Linked DNA regions of Homo sapiens: region 2 is linked to region 1. A link means that fine-mapping ties the variant in region 1 to the expression of a gene that starts in the linked region. Tissue or cell type: prefrontal cortex. Region 1 holds a variant in brackets; the other region holds the start of a gene. All regions are shown on one strand. Distances are from middle to middle.

The links. PIP is the estimated chance that this variant, and not a neighbour inherited with it, causes the effect.
Region 2: it holds the start of CRYBB1, and the variant in region 1 is fine-mapped to the expression of CRYBB1 in prefrontal cortex (ROSMAP, PIP 0.95).

Annotation. Positions count from the first base shown.
Region 1 is chr22:26,634,566-26,642,669 of GRCh38, forward strand. No RefSeq gene overlaps it. Among named protein-coding and RNA genes, the nearest start is that of CRYBA4, 17 kb to the left of the region's middle. RefSeq lists an enhancer at 7,276-8,104. The variant A/G (reference allele first, on the strand shown) is at 3,845.
Region 2 is chr22:26,613,526-26,621,629 of GRCh38, forward strand. CRYBB1 (crystallin beta B1) reads right to left here and starts at 4,502. Exons shown (of 6, transcript NM_001887.4): 1 at 4,452-4,502; 2 at 2,615-2,813. The coding sequence starts at 2,794. It also overlaps a transcript of CRYBA4 not described here. RefSeq lists enhancers at 167-845, 3,556-4,233, 4,912-5,587.

The sequences.
Region 1 (8,104 bases):
TTCTTTTATTATTATTATTGTTATTATTATTATTATTATTATTATTATTAAGACAGAGTCTCACTCTGTTGCCCAGGCTGGAGTGCAGTGGTGAGATCTTGGCTCGCTGCAGTCTCCGCCTCCCAGGTTCAAGAGTTTCTCCTGCTTCAGCCTCTCGAGTAGCTAGAATTACAGGCGTGTGCCACCATGCCTGGCTAATTTTTGTGTTTTTAGTAGAGACAGGGTTTTGCCATGTTGGCCAGGCTGATCTTGAACTCCTGACTTCAGGTGATCTGCCTGCCTTCGCCTCCCAAAGTGCTGGGATTACAGTTGTGAGCCACCTTGCCCAGCCTCTTCCTGAATCTTCACATGGTCTTGTCGCTATGCACATGCATCCCAGCTGCCTCTTCCTCCAACAGGACACCAGTCCTGTTGGATTAGGGCCCCGCCCTAATGGTCTCATTTAAACTTCATCACCTCTTTCAACACTTTACCTTCAAATACAGTCACATTCCGAGGTACTGGGGGTTTGGGACTTCAACATATGAATTTTAGGGGGACATAGTTCGGTCAAACACTCTCCCATCTGAGCTATTTCAGCTGCTAGAGGGGCACACAGTCCAGCCCATAACCCAGGCTCATTCCCATCTGAGGTTTTCAGCTTGTGCTGTTCCCTCTTCCTAGAACACTCTTCCCTCTGCTATTTCCCATCAACACTCTCCCGTAGAGCCAGATTCATAGACTGTCAGACCTTCTAGATCTGGATCTAGAACAAGGACGCTTCTAGATCATCAAGTCTAGCATTTCCCAACATTTTGTCTTTCCTTGTCATCCCCCTAGAGAGTCTTTTTAGATGTTATTTTCCTACACCTCCCCCCATGAAGTTTTGTTTTTAGAGATGGGGTCTCATCATTTTGCCCAGGCTGGTCTTGAACTCCTGGGCTCAAGTGATCTTCCCACCCTGGCTTCCCAAAGTGCTGGGATTACAGGTGTGAGCCACCACACCTGACCCCACCCCATGAAGTTTTAATATCACAAATATAAAGTATGTAATATACGTCTGTACAAACTCTGTATATATATCTGTGTTTTATACATAAAGAGTAAGATGGTTTTTTTGCTTCCCAAGATCAATTTTCACCTCTTGGGGGTCCTACTGAAGTACTGGGGGTTGGGGCTTCAACAACATTCTTAACAATATTGAGAATGCATAATTTTATCTCATCGTGTGTGTGTGTGTGTGTGTGTGTGTGAGAGACAGCATCTCACTCTGTCACCCAGGCTGGAGTGCAGTGGCACAATCTCGGCTCACTGCAACCTCTGCCTCCCGGGCTCCAGCAGTCCTCCCACCTCAGCCTCCCAAGCAGCTGGGACTAAACTATAGGCCTATGACACCATGCCCAGGTTTTTTGTTTTTTGCAGAGACTGGGTTTTGCCATGTTGCCCAGGCTGGTCTCGCACACCTTGGCTCAAGCAATCCGCCTGCTTCACCCTCCCAAATTGTTAGGATTACAGGCATGAGCCACCACACCTGGCCTTCATCCCTTTTTAACACGTAGGGAAATGGAAACCCAGGGAAGTGTGGGGACTTGATCAAGGCCATACAGCAAGTTAAAGGCAAAGCCAGGATTCAGACACAGACTTGTTCATTCATTCGTTCATTCATTCATTAAACATGTATCAAATGTCTGCTATGTACCAAACACTGTTACAGGTTCCAGGATCTAACAGGGAACAAAGATAAAATCCCTTGCCTTGGGGAATTTATATAATTGTCCAGGGATACAGATATTTCCCCTATACCTCCATGGCTGCTCAGTCAGGATTTTTCAGACTGTTACACAGATGTTGTAACATTGTTCTTTGAAAAAAAAAATCATGTGCTTTAGTTTTGGGTATTGTTGGTGTCCACACTGCAGGACTTCTCAGTGCCTACAATAGTTTAACATGTATTGTGAATCTCTGGAAGGGAGAATAGAATATTCAGAGTTTTCCAAATTTATTTGACCACAGAACAATTATGAACTTGTTCTTTCCCTTCTGTGGAGCACCTTGCATTATGAGTGGCCTGTGGAACATAAGGTAGGAAATGCTAGAGTTAGCTAGGATAGCCACTCACAGCCTAGTATGAATTAGTTTCCAAACGAGCTTTATGAAATGGACTGTGGAAGTTGTAAGTGTTGCTGTAGGGGCAGGGGTACTGTCCAGGAAGGGGTTCCATGGTCAGTCCTAGGGAAATGGGATTAGGAAGACATAGGGGTGAGGACAATTTAGAGAGGCCCATGAAGTCAATCTCTGTGGACTCTGAGGCCCAGAATGAGGGCTGGGCCTGGCTACCATCTTCCAGCTAGAAGTTTCCTCACTCAGAGCCCCTGAGGCCCTAGAAGGCACTGGATGTAGAGGGCTCTGCTGCACCTACCACAGAGAGGCCACTGTTTGACTTTGACAGGAAGACTGAGTTGGCACCAGCCTCCAGAAGAGGCCATCATGGGTTTGGGTTTGCATCCTGGGTTTACCAGCATGTAACCCCAGTTTCCTCATCTTTTAATGGAGAAATTCTCATCTCCTTGCTTGCAAAAAGTTAAATGATATATTATATATATGCCTGTGCCCAGGGTACACACAAAGAACTTGGTAAGCTCTCAGTAAAGGTTGATGGAAATTGTTAGTATCATTCTTAATATTGTTATTAGTATTATTATACATTTCTCGGTCCCTTTGCTTTGACCTCCTCCCTTATCTCCACCCAAAACCCTTTACCCAAGCATACCTTTCTCAGAATAATGATGATAATAATATCGATGATACATATTGTGTTTATCCCTTTCACATGTGATATAATTTAAACCTCACAGGGCCGGGCCTGGTGGCTCACGCCTGTAATCCCAGCACTTTGGGAGGCCGACGCGGGTGGATCACGAGGTCAGGAGATCGAGACCATCCTGGCTAACACGGTGAAACCCCGTCTCTACTAAAAATACAAAAAAATTAGCCGGGTGTGGTGGCGGGCACCTGTAGTCCCAGCTACTCGGGAGGCTGAGGCAGGAGAATGGCATGAAGCCTGGAGGTGGAGCTTGCAATGAGCCGAGATTGCACCACTGCACTCCAGCCTGGGGGACAGAGCGAGACTCCATCTCAAAAAAAACCAAAAAACAAAAAAACAAAAAAACCTCACAGTAACTTCTTTATGCAATTATTGTCTATTTAAAGCAGAGACGTGAGGCTCAGAGGCTCTGAGAGTTCAAGCAACTTGCCTGAGACCACCCAGCCTGCAGGACCATTGAGCCCACCGTAGGTTGTGCAAGGTTTTGGGGGGTGGATGAAAGAGATAATGGGCACAAATAAAATGTATAAACAATAAGTTGCTGGGTTCATGTCCTCCCTTTAAAGAGTTAAACAAGGGGCTGGGTGTGGTGGCTCGTGCCTGTAATCCCAGCACTTTGGGAGGCCGAGGCAGGCGGAACACGAGGTCAGGAGTTTGAGATCAGCCTGATCAACATGGTGAAACCCCGACTCTACTAAAAATACGAAAATTAGCCAGGTGTGGTGGTGTGTACCTGTAATCCCAGCTCCTCGGGAGGCTAAGGCAGGAGAATCGCTTGAACCTGGGAGGCAGAGGTTACAGTGAGCCGAGATGGTGCCACTACACTCCAGCCTGGGTGACAGAGCAAGGCTCCATCTCAGGAGAAAAAAAAAAAAAAGCCCTTCACACTTTAGTATTAACAACTATAGAGTTTCTTATAGGAAAGCCTCAGGTCCTTGGGCAAAGCGGGCCATACTTGCTGCAGGAAGGAAGGAAGGAAGGAGTGGAGGAAGGAGGGAGGGAAAAAGGGAGGAAGGAATGAGGGAGGAAAGGAAGGGAGGG[A/G]GAGAGAGAGGAAGGAGGGAAAGAAGGAAGGAAGGAAGGAAATTGAAATTTGGTGGTGATCATTTTAGGAGCCACCCCAGTTAGAGCCAGGAGTAAGGCTGGCAACCATAAAAAATGGGAGCCCAAATGTGAGCTGATGCTAGAGCAACAGACAATAAAGAGACAATTTGTCAGGGGCGATCTTGAGAGGGGAGATAACAGAGCATGAAATTATTTTTCATGTCTTGCCAGGGGACCAATTTTCTTAGGTTATGAAAGAAAGAGAGCTTAAATTATTGATGCTATTTGGTCAGAAGTGAGTGGTAGGCATGGAACACCCATCACCTGGAACAATGCACACAGCCGACAGGACTGAACACAGGGTCCAGGGCTGTGGATCCCAAACCAGCAACCTCTTTGCCCAGAGAGGGAAGGGGACTTGTTCAAGACCACACAGTAGGCACTATCCATGTTGCTCCTTGCAGCCTGTTCCCTAGGTGCTCACACCTGTGAGTAGGTGATACAGCACAGAAGAAAAGACACCGGGTGTTGCACACACCTGGGTGTGAATCCTGGATCCTGTGTTTACCAGGTAAGGTGATCTTCAGTGAGCTGCTTTGCCCCACTGAGCCTCAGTTTCCTCGCCTCTTAAAGAGGAAGGCTGTTATGAGGGTTCGAGGAGTTGATACCTGGAAAAATGCTTTGAAAATAATCCACAATGTGAGCCTTCTCTTTTTTTCTTTTTTGAGACTGGGTCTTGCTCTGTCACAAAGACTGGAGTGCAGGAGCAATCACAGCTCACTGCAGCCTCTACCTCCTCGGCTCAAGTGATCCTCCCACCTCAGCCCCCTGAGTAGCTGGGCCATGCCTGGGTAATTTTTAAACTCTTTTTGTAGAGATAGGTCTCACTATATTTCCCAGGCTGATCTCAAACTCTCGGGCTCAAGTGATCTGCCCATTCTGGCTTCCAAAAGTGCTGGGATTACAGGCTTGAGCCACCGTGCCCGCCTCTCTTTCTTTCTTTAAAAAAAAAAAAAGATTTATTTTAAAAATTGTATTTTTTTTTTTTTAAACTTAGTTTTGCTCTTGTTGCCCGGGCTGGAGTGCAATGGCGTGATCAATCATAAGTCACTGCAACCTCTGCCTCCCGGGTTCAAACGATTCTCCTGCCTCAGCCTCCCGAGTAGCTAGCATTACAGGCATGTGCCACCACACCCAACTAATTTTGTATTTTTAGTAGAGATGAGGTTTCACCATGTTGGTCAGGCTGGTCTTGAACTTCAGACCTCAGGTGATCCGCCCGCCTCGGCCCCCCAAAGTGCTGGGATTACAGGCGTGAGCCACCGCACCTGGCCAAAAAATTGTATTTTTAATTGACATATAACAATTATATACATACATAGGGTACAATGTGATGTTTTGATATGTGTTTACAATGTGGAATGATTAAACTGGGCTAATTAACAAATTCATCACCTCACATACTTATTTTTTTGTGATGAACACATTTAAAATCTACGCTTAGCAATTTTGAAATATACAATGCACTAGTATTTATTATAGTCACCATGCTGTGCAACAGATCACTAGAGTTTATTTCTCCTGTTTAACTGAAACTTTGCACCCTCTGATCGATGTCTCCCCTTTCTCCCCTTTCCCCCTCCACCCCCTCCTCCAGCTTCTGGTAACCACCGTTCCACTCTCTACTTTGATGAGTTCAACTTCTTTAGATTCCACATATGAGTGAGATCATACGGTATTTGTCTTCTGTGCCTGCCTTATTTCACTTAGCATAATGTCCTCCAGGTTTATCCATGCTGTCACCAATGGCAGGATTAACCTCCTTTTTCTTTCTTCCTTTTTTTTTTTGAGATGGACTCTCTCTCTGTTGCCCAGGCTGGAGTGCAGTGGCTTGATCCCGGCTCACTGCAACCGCCACCACCTGGGTTCAAGCGATTCTCCTGCCTCAGCCTCCCGCGTAGCTGGGATTACAGACACTTGCCACCACGCCTGGCTAATTTTTGTATTTTTAGTAGAGACAGGGCTTTGTTACATTGGGCAGGCTGGTCTTGAACTCCTGACCTCAGGTGACCTGCCCACCTTGGCTTCCCAATAACCTCCTTTTTTAGCCATTGTGCATATAGACACCACATTTAAAAAATCCATTCATCTGTTGATGGACAGATGAATGGACTGTAGATTGATTCCTGTCTTGGCTATTGTGAATAGTGCTGCAATGAACATGGGGGTGCAGGCATCTCGTCAGCATACTGACTTCAATTCCTTTGGATAGATATCCAGCAGTGGGATTGCTGGATCATATGGCAATTCTATTTTTAGTTTTCTGAGGAACCTCCATCCTGTTCTCCATAACGGCTGCACTAATTTACATTCCCACCAACAGCACATAAGGGTTCCGTTTTCCTACATCCTGGCCCTCACTTCTCTTTTGTCTTTTTGATACTGGCCATTCTAACAGGTGGGAGGAGATATCCCATGGTGGCTTTAGTTTGCATTTTCCTGATGATTCATAATGCCGAGCATGTTTTCATATATATGTTGACCATTTGTATGGCTTCTTTTGAGAAGTGTCTATTTAAGTCCTTTGCCCGAAAAAAAAAAATCTCCCACTAAAGAAAAGACCAGGACCACATGGCTTCACGGTGAAATTCCATCAAACATTTAAAGAAAAACCAATACTTATCCTTCCCAAACTCTTCCAAAATAAAGAAGAAGGAATACTTCCAAGCATATTTTACAGCATTATCCTGAATGCAAAGCCAGACCAGGACACAAGGAAAGATAATTACAGGCCAATATCTCTGATAAGAATAGGTACCAAATACTAGCAAACCAAATTCAACAGCACATTAAAAGGATCATTCATCATGATCAAGTGGGATTTATCCCTGGGACGCGAGGGTGGGTCAACATAGACAAATCAATAAATGTGAGCTGGGCGCGGTGGCTCATGCCTGTAATCCTAGCACTTTGGGAGGCTGAAGCGGGCAGATCACCTGAGATCAGGTGCCATTATTTGAGGTCAGCCTGGCCAACATGGAGAAAATGTTTCTACTAAAAATACAAAACTTAATCGGGCATGGTGGCACATGCCTGTAGTCGCAGCTACTCAGGAGGCTGAGGTGGGAGAATCACTTGAACCCCAGAGGCGGAGGCTGCAGTGAGCCAAGATTGTACCACTGCACTCCAGCCCAGGCGACAGAGTGAGACTCTGTCTCAAAAAAACCCAAAATCAAAAACCAAAACAAAACAAAACAAAGATGTGATCACTACATTAATGAATTAAGGACAAAAACCATAAGATCACCTCAATAGATAGAGAAAAAGCACTTGATAAAATTCAACATATTTTCCTGATAAAAACTCTCAATAAATTAGGCACAGAAGGAACGTACCGCAACACAATAAAGGCCATATATGACAAGCCCATAGCTAACATCATACTCAATAGTGCAAAGCTGAAAGCTTTTCCTTTAAGATCAGGAAGACCACTCTCACGACCTCTAGTCAACATTGCGCTTGAAGTTCTAGCCAGATCAATCAGGTAAGACACACACACACACACACACACACACACACACACACACACACACACACACACACACGTCTTTCTTATTCTTCCCTTTCTCCCTCTCCTGCCCCCTCTACCCCAGTGAAGGAGGAGGAGGTTGCAGTAAGCTGAGATCATGCCACTGCACTCCAGCCTGGGCTACAGAGATTCTGTCTCAAAAAAAAAAAAAAAAAAAAGAAGGTTAATCCTGCCATTGGTGACAACATGGATGAACCTGCAGGACATTATGCTATTATGCTAAGTGACATCAAGACCTGGTTCCTCCTCCTGCCCCTCTACCTGAGCTCTCACTACTGCTCCACTGAGATCCCCAAGAGCAAAGCTGTGACAAAGACTTCAGTGGGAGTCATCAGAGAAAAAGGAACACAACCACCTAGCGTGAAAGGGGGTGAGAAGCTGAAGATCCTACACATCTAGGGTGTGTTTATGAGAGGAAGGGAGGGAGGCAGAGAGGGAGAGAGGGGCGAGAACAAGAGGAAGGGAGTCAGAGGGGAGAGAGAGAGGCCAGAGAAAGAGAGAAAGAGGGAGAGAGAGGAGGTGGGGGGACAGACTGAGAAGAGAGAGAAGAGAAAAATGGAGGGAGAGAGAAGGGAGAGACAGAGGAGAGAGGGAAGAGAGAGAGGGAGAGAGAGGAGAGAGTAGGGGTCAGGGGAGAGAGGGGAGAGAAAGATGGGGAGAGACACAAAGAG
Region 2 (8,104 bases), 21 kb before region 1:
ACTGCAATCTGTAAACATAAATTGTAAAGATTTCATGGACACTTATCACTTCCCCAATCAATACCCTTGTGCTTTCCTATGCCTGTCTTTACTTTAATCTCTTAATCCTGTCAGCTGAGGAGGATGTATGTCGCCTCAGGACCGTGTGATAATTGCATTAACTGCACAAATTGTACAGCATGTGTGTTTGAGCAATATGAAATGTGGGCACCTTAAAAAAGAACAGGATAACAGCAATTGTTCAGGGAATAAGAGAGATAACCTTAAACTCTGACCGCCAGTGAGCCGGGCAGAACAGAGCCATATTTCTCTTCTTTCAAAAGCAAATGGGAGAAATATCGCTGAATTCTTTTTCTCAGCATGGAACATCCCTGAGAAAGAGAATGCGCACCTGGGGTTAGGTCTCTAAACTGGCCCCCCTGGGCGTGGTCGTCTCTTATGGTCGACGCTGCAGAGATGAGATAGACTCCAGTCTCCCATAGCTCTCCCAGGCTTATTAGGAAGAGGAAATTCCTGCCTAATAAATTTTGGCCAGACCGGTTGATCTCAAAACCCTGTCTCCTGATAAGATGTTATCAATGACAATGGTGCCCAAAACTTCATTAGCAATTTTAATTTTGCCCCGGTCCTGTGATCCTGTGATCTCTCCCTGCCTCCACTTGCCCTGTGATATTCTATTACCTTGTAAAGTACTTGATGTCTGTGACCCACACCTATTCTCACACTCCCTCCCCTTTTGAAACTCCCTAATAAAAACTTGCTGGTTTTTGCAGCTTGTGGGGCATCACGGAACCTACTGACATGTGATGTCTCCCCCGGACGCCCAGCTTTACAATTTTTCTCTTTTGTACTCTGTCCCTTTATTTCTCAAGCTGGCCGACGCTTAGGAAAAATAGAAAAGAATCTATGTGAATATCGGGGCAGGTTCCCCGATACCAGGAGACAGGGATAAGAACGTCCAAGCCATGCTGTTCACGAGAGCAAAGCTAGCAACCACTGAAATCGTGCTTAGCAGGAAAGAGATGGTCACGCTCTGAAATATCAGGCAGCAGCCAGAATGAATGGCCGGCAGTCATGCGCAACAATATGGATGGATATTAGGGATCTCATAGTAAGTGAAAAGTACAAAGAAAAGCCCAGAATAATCACATTGCATATTTCAATAAATTAAAAACAAGTAAATCGGCCAGTTGCGGTGGCTCACACCTATAATTCCAGCACTTGGGGAGGCGGAGGCTAGGAGTTCGAGACCAGCCTGGATAATATGGCAAAACCCGTCTCATAATTCGGTCTCAAAATAAATGAATAAATAAAACAAGTAAATAAATATACATGTGTATGTGTGTATACATTTTTAAAGGAATAATGCATAAAATTGTATACAAAAGCAAGCAAGCAGATTACAGACACAGGTTGAGGATAGGACAGTATTTCCTGGAGTTGGGGAGGAAAATGATGGACTCAAGGGAGACACCTTAGAGTTAGGTAGAAAGTTTTTAACCAAGTCCTGGCTTTTATATGGGTGGTGGGTTTGTAGGTGCATATTGCATTATTAGAAATTAAATAAAACTAATGATTAAATAGGTACATAAATAAAAACCTGCCACGCACTGACCACATGAGAGCGTGTCATGAACTAGGGGTTGCAAAATGGCCTACTTCTGTGACCTGAGGTTGAAACCACACCAAACCAAATCCCAGGGGACTGGACACCTTGCTCCACAGGATGCCTTTCAGCCCAGACCACCTCGAGCAATTTTGAGGGTCTGAGGCCATCCTGCTGCCCCAGTGAGCCTCCAAGGACAGCTGGTTCCCTGCTGCTAAGCCAGCCCACTTCCTTTTCTTCTTTTTTTTTCTTGCTTTCGATAAACTCTAAGCATGTGCGTGTGCAGGTGTAGCCTGATTGCCAGGTGTCCCTTCAGCTGTGAAGCGGTATGGTTTGGTTGTTGTTATTGCACAACTCAACTATAGGTCCCCTTTTTCTTTCTATTCTTTTCTTTTTTTTTTTGATGGAGTCTCCCTCTGTTGCCCAGGCTGGAGTGCAGTGGCATGATCTCAGCTCACTGCAACCTCCGCCTCCTGGGTTCAAGTGATTCTCCTGCCTCAGCCTCCCAAGTAGCTGGGATTACAGGCGCCCACCACTACGCCTGGCTAATTTTTGTATTTTTAGTAGAGACAGGGTTTCACCATGTTGGCCAGGCTGGTCTCGAACTCCTGACCTCAGGTGATCCACCTGCCTCGGCCTCCCAAAGTGCTGGGATTACAGGCATGAGCCACTGCGCCCGGCCCCACTTTCTCCAAGTGTGTCAGAACCCCTGGCTATTTTATGGGCTCCCAGATTGGCTGGGCCACACTTGTGTCCCAGAAGGAGGAGGGAGGAGGAGGCCAAGGTGAGGGAAAAAGAGAATAGGGACAGAGGATAAGAGTCTGGGGAGGTGGAGAAGAAGAAAAGGGAGAGTAAATAGAAAGGAGAGAAAATAAGCCAAGAAAAAGGAGGAGAAAGAGGTGCGGAGGAGTAAGAGGTGAAAGAGGAAGAGGAGGAGGAGAAGAAGGAGGAGGAGGGAAGGAAGGAAAGAAGGCATGGCACCCAGCCACTGCACCCCCAGGTCCTTACCCTGTAGTTCCCAGGAGGCAGTTCCGCCGCCTTGGCGCTGGTAATAGGCACGGTTGTTGGGGCCAGGGTAGTGCCGGGACTAGGGGATGTTCCTGCAGGTGGGGCCCCCTTCCCCTTGGTGTCAGGCCCTGGGTTCACCGCCACTGTGGCCGAGGCCGAGGCCTTTGCAGCCTGAGACATGGTTCCCGCCTGCAAAAGTCTGTAAAGAAACTCTGGCCTTCAGGGATGACACCCCCAAACTGCCTCCTGCCCTCATAGCCCCACATCCTGTGCTTTCAGCCTCCTTGGAGCTCGTTTCCTCTCTATCTCCTTCTGAAACGGTTAAGCCTGGAAGTTTTTCTTTCATCCCTACTTCCCAGCCAAGACCTTCCCGTCTGGGGGCCACTCATCCCACATATATCCTTCCTCCAGGCTTTTGACCATGCGGTTCCCTCCACTAGCTGTTCCACCCTCCATTACCCCGCTAGGTCCTTCCTTAGCCCCCTGCAATTTTCCACACTGCTTATCACACTGATTTGCTTGTGCAACTCCAATTTGCCTCCCTAGACTAATAACAAGAAGTCCCATTTGGGAGTACTTAAGGTGTGCCAGGCACTGTGACATACATTAATTAACCCATCTGACCATGAACCTCACCCGATGGAGTAGCTGCTATCATGATCCCCTCTGAGCAGCAGGGGGCTGGAGAAGGAAGGGGCCCAGCTCAGGCCCAAACAGCTACTAAGTGGTAGGGCTCTGATTTCAACTCAAGGAAATGGAGCCAGCAACTGGGCTTTTAAAGTATTCTGCCATTTGCTTAATCTGATTTATTCACCGTCCATCCCTAACACTTGCTCTGCACCTGGCACATAGGAGATGCCCAATTAACATTTGTTCAGAGAATGAATGAATGCATGCTCCCAGCTCCTTTCCCCGTCTGCTTCCTCTGAGGGGTTGGTGTATGGGTGCAAATACAGGCCGGGGACTGAGGCTTATGGGAGGACCCAAGAGGATGTATTTACTGCATGTGGAGGGTTCTGAAAATGAGGACTGGGGCTGGGTAGGCTTTGGGTGGAGAGGGCTTTGGTCAATTCCAGTGGTTCCTTGTTGCTTTGGGGTCGTGGACTCCTTTGAATGTTTGATGAATACCTCAACTTTGTCCCCGGACAAAAATAATGCTCTCTTTAACTTTGGAGACAATGTTAAGGGATTTGAGGACCCCCTGCTAGCACAGATTAAGACCCTCTGGTCAAGCTGATTCCCGAACACATTCTGTAAGGCGGAGCTAGTTGGGATAAGCACATCCCTCCCCCAGCCTCCTCCAGGAAGGCTGTGCATATTCTGGGGTGCCCCCTGTTCACCAGGGGTGAGGCCAGACATCTGGACCACATCTGTGGCTTTAAACACTCCCCCAGGGCTGGCAGCTGGACTCATGCCTTCCTGGAGATATTCTCATTCTCTCTCTCTCCCTGCTTCACCCTCTCCCTCTGTTCCTCCTCTCTTCCCTGTCTTTGCCTCTCTATCTGTTTCTTACTTCTCTCCCTCTTTCTGCCTATCTGCCTGTCTGTTTCTCTCCCTCTCTGTTCCTCTCTCCCCCACTATCTCTCCCTCATTGTATCTTTGCTTATCTCTCTATCTGTCCTTTTTAATTATATTTACTTCTCTCTCTATTTCTGTCTTTTCTCACTCTCTCCCCTCTCCCTCTCCCTCCCTTTCTTCCTCTCTCCACTTCCGTCTTTATCTCCATGGCCCTGCTCTCTGACTCTCATGGCACTGCTATCTCTGCCTCCCTCTCTCTGTCTCCCTTTTCTCTTCCCCTCCCCTTCAGCTCTCAGCTGGGCTGTGGGTTCCCTCTTACCTGGGGACTTGCTACTTCCTGCTGGAGGACAGGCAGGCGGGCAGGTGCTATGGGTGACTAGAGTCCGACCCCCCATTTTATAGTCTGGCAGACATCAGGCCCTATAGTCTGTGGCACAAAGGGGAAGCTGGCTCAGCAGGCCTGGGCAGGGAGTGGGGGACTGGGGCCCTGACCTCGCCTGGATCACTGCAGACAGCAGCACTTTCCTTTGTGAGACCAGCACACACAGCAGAAACCCTGGCCACAGCAGCTTCACCTTCCAACCCTACCCTGACTCCTTTCTCAACAACCCCAGCCAGGGATGGGCCCCCAAAAGGGTCCCTGCTGGCTGCCAACATGGGGCAGGGAAAAGGGGAGACCCTGGGAGGCAGGAGACCAGAGTTTGAATCCTGACTCAGCCACTGCGCGCTGTGTGGCTTTTGGTAGGTCTCTACCCCTAGGGGGGCCTCTGTGTCTGCAATTATAAGGTGGGCACGTGTCCCTGTTGGATGCCATATAGAAAAGAAGGTGACAATGAGCACAGAAGCGTTTTGTAAAGGCAGATGTGGGTTTGATATGGACAGCCTTTTTTACGGAGTGCTTACTGTGTGCCGAACCCGTGTTATCTCGGTCAGTCCCCGGGACAATCTGCCTTATTTGGTACTTTCATTATGCCCATTTCACAGAAGAGGAAAGTGAAGGCACAGAGAGGTCAGAGCCAGCCCAGGCCAGCCAGCTCTGGGCCTGTGTGCTTTCTTCTCCTGCTGTCCAGCCTTGACCTTGGCCTGAGGCCCCCTGGCCTGACTTCCTCTTTGTAGGTTGGGGTGGGAATGGGAGAGTCGCACTGTGCTCAGCTGGGTTGGATATCGGAGACCTGGGTCTTTTTCTTTTCCCCACATTGGGCCCCATCCTTTCCTGACCTATCGACAGTGATCCCTCTCGCCACCCCAGTTCCCCGCCTCTACCCAGGCCACGTTATCTGACCTGGAGGACAGTGCTGGTGGCCAGAAATATGACTGCCTGTCCCAGAGCCTCCTGCCCTGGCAAGCCCCAGATGCCCACCACATCTTGTTCACCACTGGCCCCAGCACCTAGCTGGGCCTGGCTAGGTAGAGCTTGGCACATCATGGGTTCTCAGTCAATAACTGGTGACTCAATGGTGGTTCCAATGGATCGGAACAGAAGGTAGGGTACGGAGGAGATAGGGAAACCAAGGCAAGGAGAGAGAAGTAAGGAGGCAGATAGAAGTAACAGACAAAGAGAGAGGTGGAGACAGAGACACAGAGAGGCACAGGGGACATGGACAGTGAAGGAGCGAGAGACGGAGAGACAGAGGTCAAGTTGGGGTGATCAAGCCTCAGGACGGAGGAACAGACGCCAGAAATCACAGGGCCCAATCCTCCCATTTCACAAATGGAGAAACCGAGGCCCAGGTGGAACAAATGACTTCAACATAGTCACATGGCGGGAACTCACAGTACAGCTGGGGTCAGAAGGAGCCTGGGGAGCTGCTCAGCTAGGTCACCTGCAGTCGGCTCCCCAGTCCCAGGCAGGGTATATTGCGGGGGCATCTGGATAGGCTCCTGTCTCTTCTTTTTCGGGGTTCTAGGCTCCCCGTGGAGCCCAGCTCTGTCTTGAACTCTCCCTGGCCTGGAGCCAGCTTTGCCTCTGTCCCTCCACCACCCAGCACCCCCTCGCTTCCTAGCCTCTCCTTGGCCTTTCATCCTGGGCCAAGACTTGGTGGGTGGGGTGTGGGCAGGAACTGCAAGATGGGGTAGCCACTGGAACTGGGGCCAAGACGCCTGTGGTGAGGGCCCACCCACCAGTCTAGGCTTCAAAGCCAGGTCATCTGGGGCAGTTCCGTGCCCCCCCTAAAGCCCCAGGAATGGGCTGTCTGCCAGAGGGTGGGGGCAGAGAAGGGGGATGGCCCACCATGTTGGTGGCTCCACTCTGAGCATTTATTATTATTATTGTATCCTTCATTATATCTTTTTCTTTTTTGCCCTGTCTTATGGAGCCAATTTATTTTCTTTTCTTTTTTTCTTTTCTTTTTTTTTTTTTGCATTGTCCTGTACTCCTCAGTATAAGGATGAAGTCTCTGGGATTAACCCCAATTACGGATAAGGAAACTGAAGCAACTCCCTTTCCTTCCTCTCTCTCAGCCACTTTCTCATAAAAATGGAAATGTAAGATAAAATTGGAACTCACATCTTCTTTACTCATGAACCCAGGCTCTTAAAAACTATGCACCCCTGCTTTTTGATCAACAATTAATAATAATCATCTTTCTTATTAGCAATGGTGATGATGAAGATGATGGAAATACCACAATATTTTTTATGTTGCAGGAGCAATTCCAGCTGCTGTTCATGTGCTATTCACATTTATCCTCACAATCCCCCTGTTTCTTAGACTAATCCCAACTTACCTTGTTACACCCATTTTACACACAAGTAAACTGAGGCTCAGAGTGCGTAAGTAACATGCTTAAAAGTTACCCAGCCAGCACCAGTGGGATGCAAACCCAGGCAGTCTGGCTGTAGAGGGTGCATTGTTAACCTTTCATTTTCATGCCAACCCTTCATCAAAGTCATGCATTCCTTTTTTTTTTTTTTTTTTTTTTTTTTGAGACGGGGTCTTGCTCTGTCACCCAGGGTCAAGAGAAATGGCATGATCTTGGCTCACTGAAACCCCTGCCTCCAGGTTCAAGCAATTCTCCTGCCTCAGCCTCCCTAGTAGCTGGGATTACAGGCGCCCGCGCTACTCCCGGCTAATTTTTGTGTTTTTAGTAGAGACGGGGTTTCACCATGTTGGCCAGCCTGGTCTTGAACTCCTGACCTCAGGTGATCCACCCACCTCGGCCTCCCAAAGTGCTGAGATTACAGGCGTGAGCCATTGCGCCCAGCCTAAAGTCATGCGTTTGATAGAGCTGCATTTCACCCTCTTAAAAGGAAACTGGTGTGGCCACTTTACAGGTCATGAGCAGGACTCAGGTGTCCTCCAGGTCACACGGATGGTAAGAAAGAAGCAGGGCTGGATTTCATCTCAGATGATCTGGTTTCCAGTCATGCTGTTTTCCTATGCTTGTTACACCCATTTTACACACAAGTATGTATGTATGAGGGACCTCTTAGGTCCCTCATACGCCAATTCAGAGGGCAGGGTTTCGGGACAAGAGGCACACAGCAAATTGTACAAGTCCTGGATATTTGGCAAGTGTGCCACAGTTTGCAAAGCATGTTTGCAACTAACAGCTCCTCTATGCTGCCCACAGTGCCATCCGGATTCATCTTCAGGCTTTGTGGACCCAGCAGGCCCTGGCCTAGCCCTCTTCTCCTGCCTCACTTCCCTTCAGGTCCCCTGAGCTCCAGGCCAATTGGGCTACCAGCTCTTTCTTGTACATGTGCCCCAAGTTCCCACCTCTGAACTTTTTCTTAGAATGCCTCTCCTTCCATCTCACTCTGTACATATCTTCCTCATCCTTCAGAGTCTAGTTCAAATGCCTCCTCTAACGGCAAGCCTATCTGGATTGCTTCAACTGGAAGAGAAAGGGGAAAGAGAGAAGGAAAGGAATAGGCATTTCCTGAATGTTTACTCTGTACCAGGCATGTTATGTAACCTCACAACAACTCTGTGATATGGTTTGTTTCTGCCCCATTTTATAGGCAGAAATT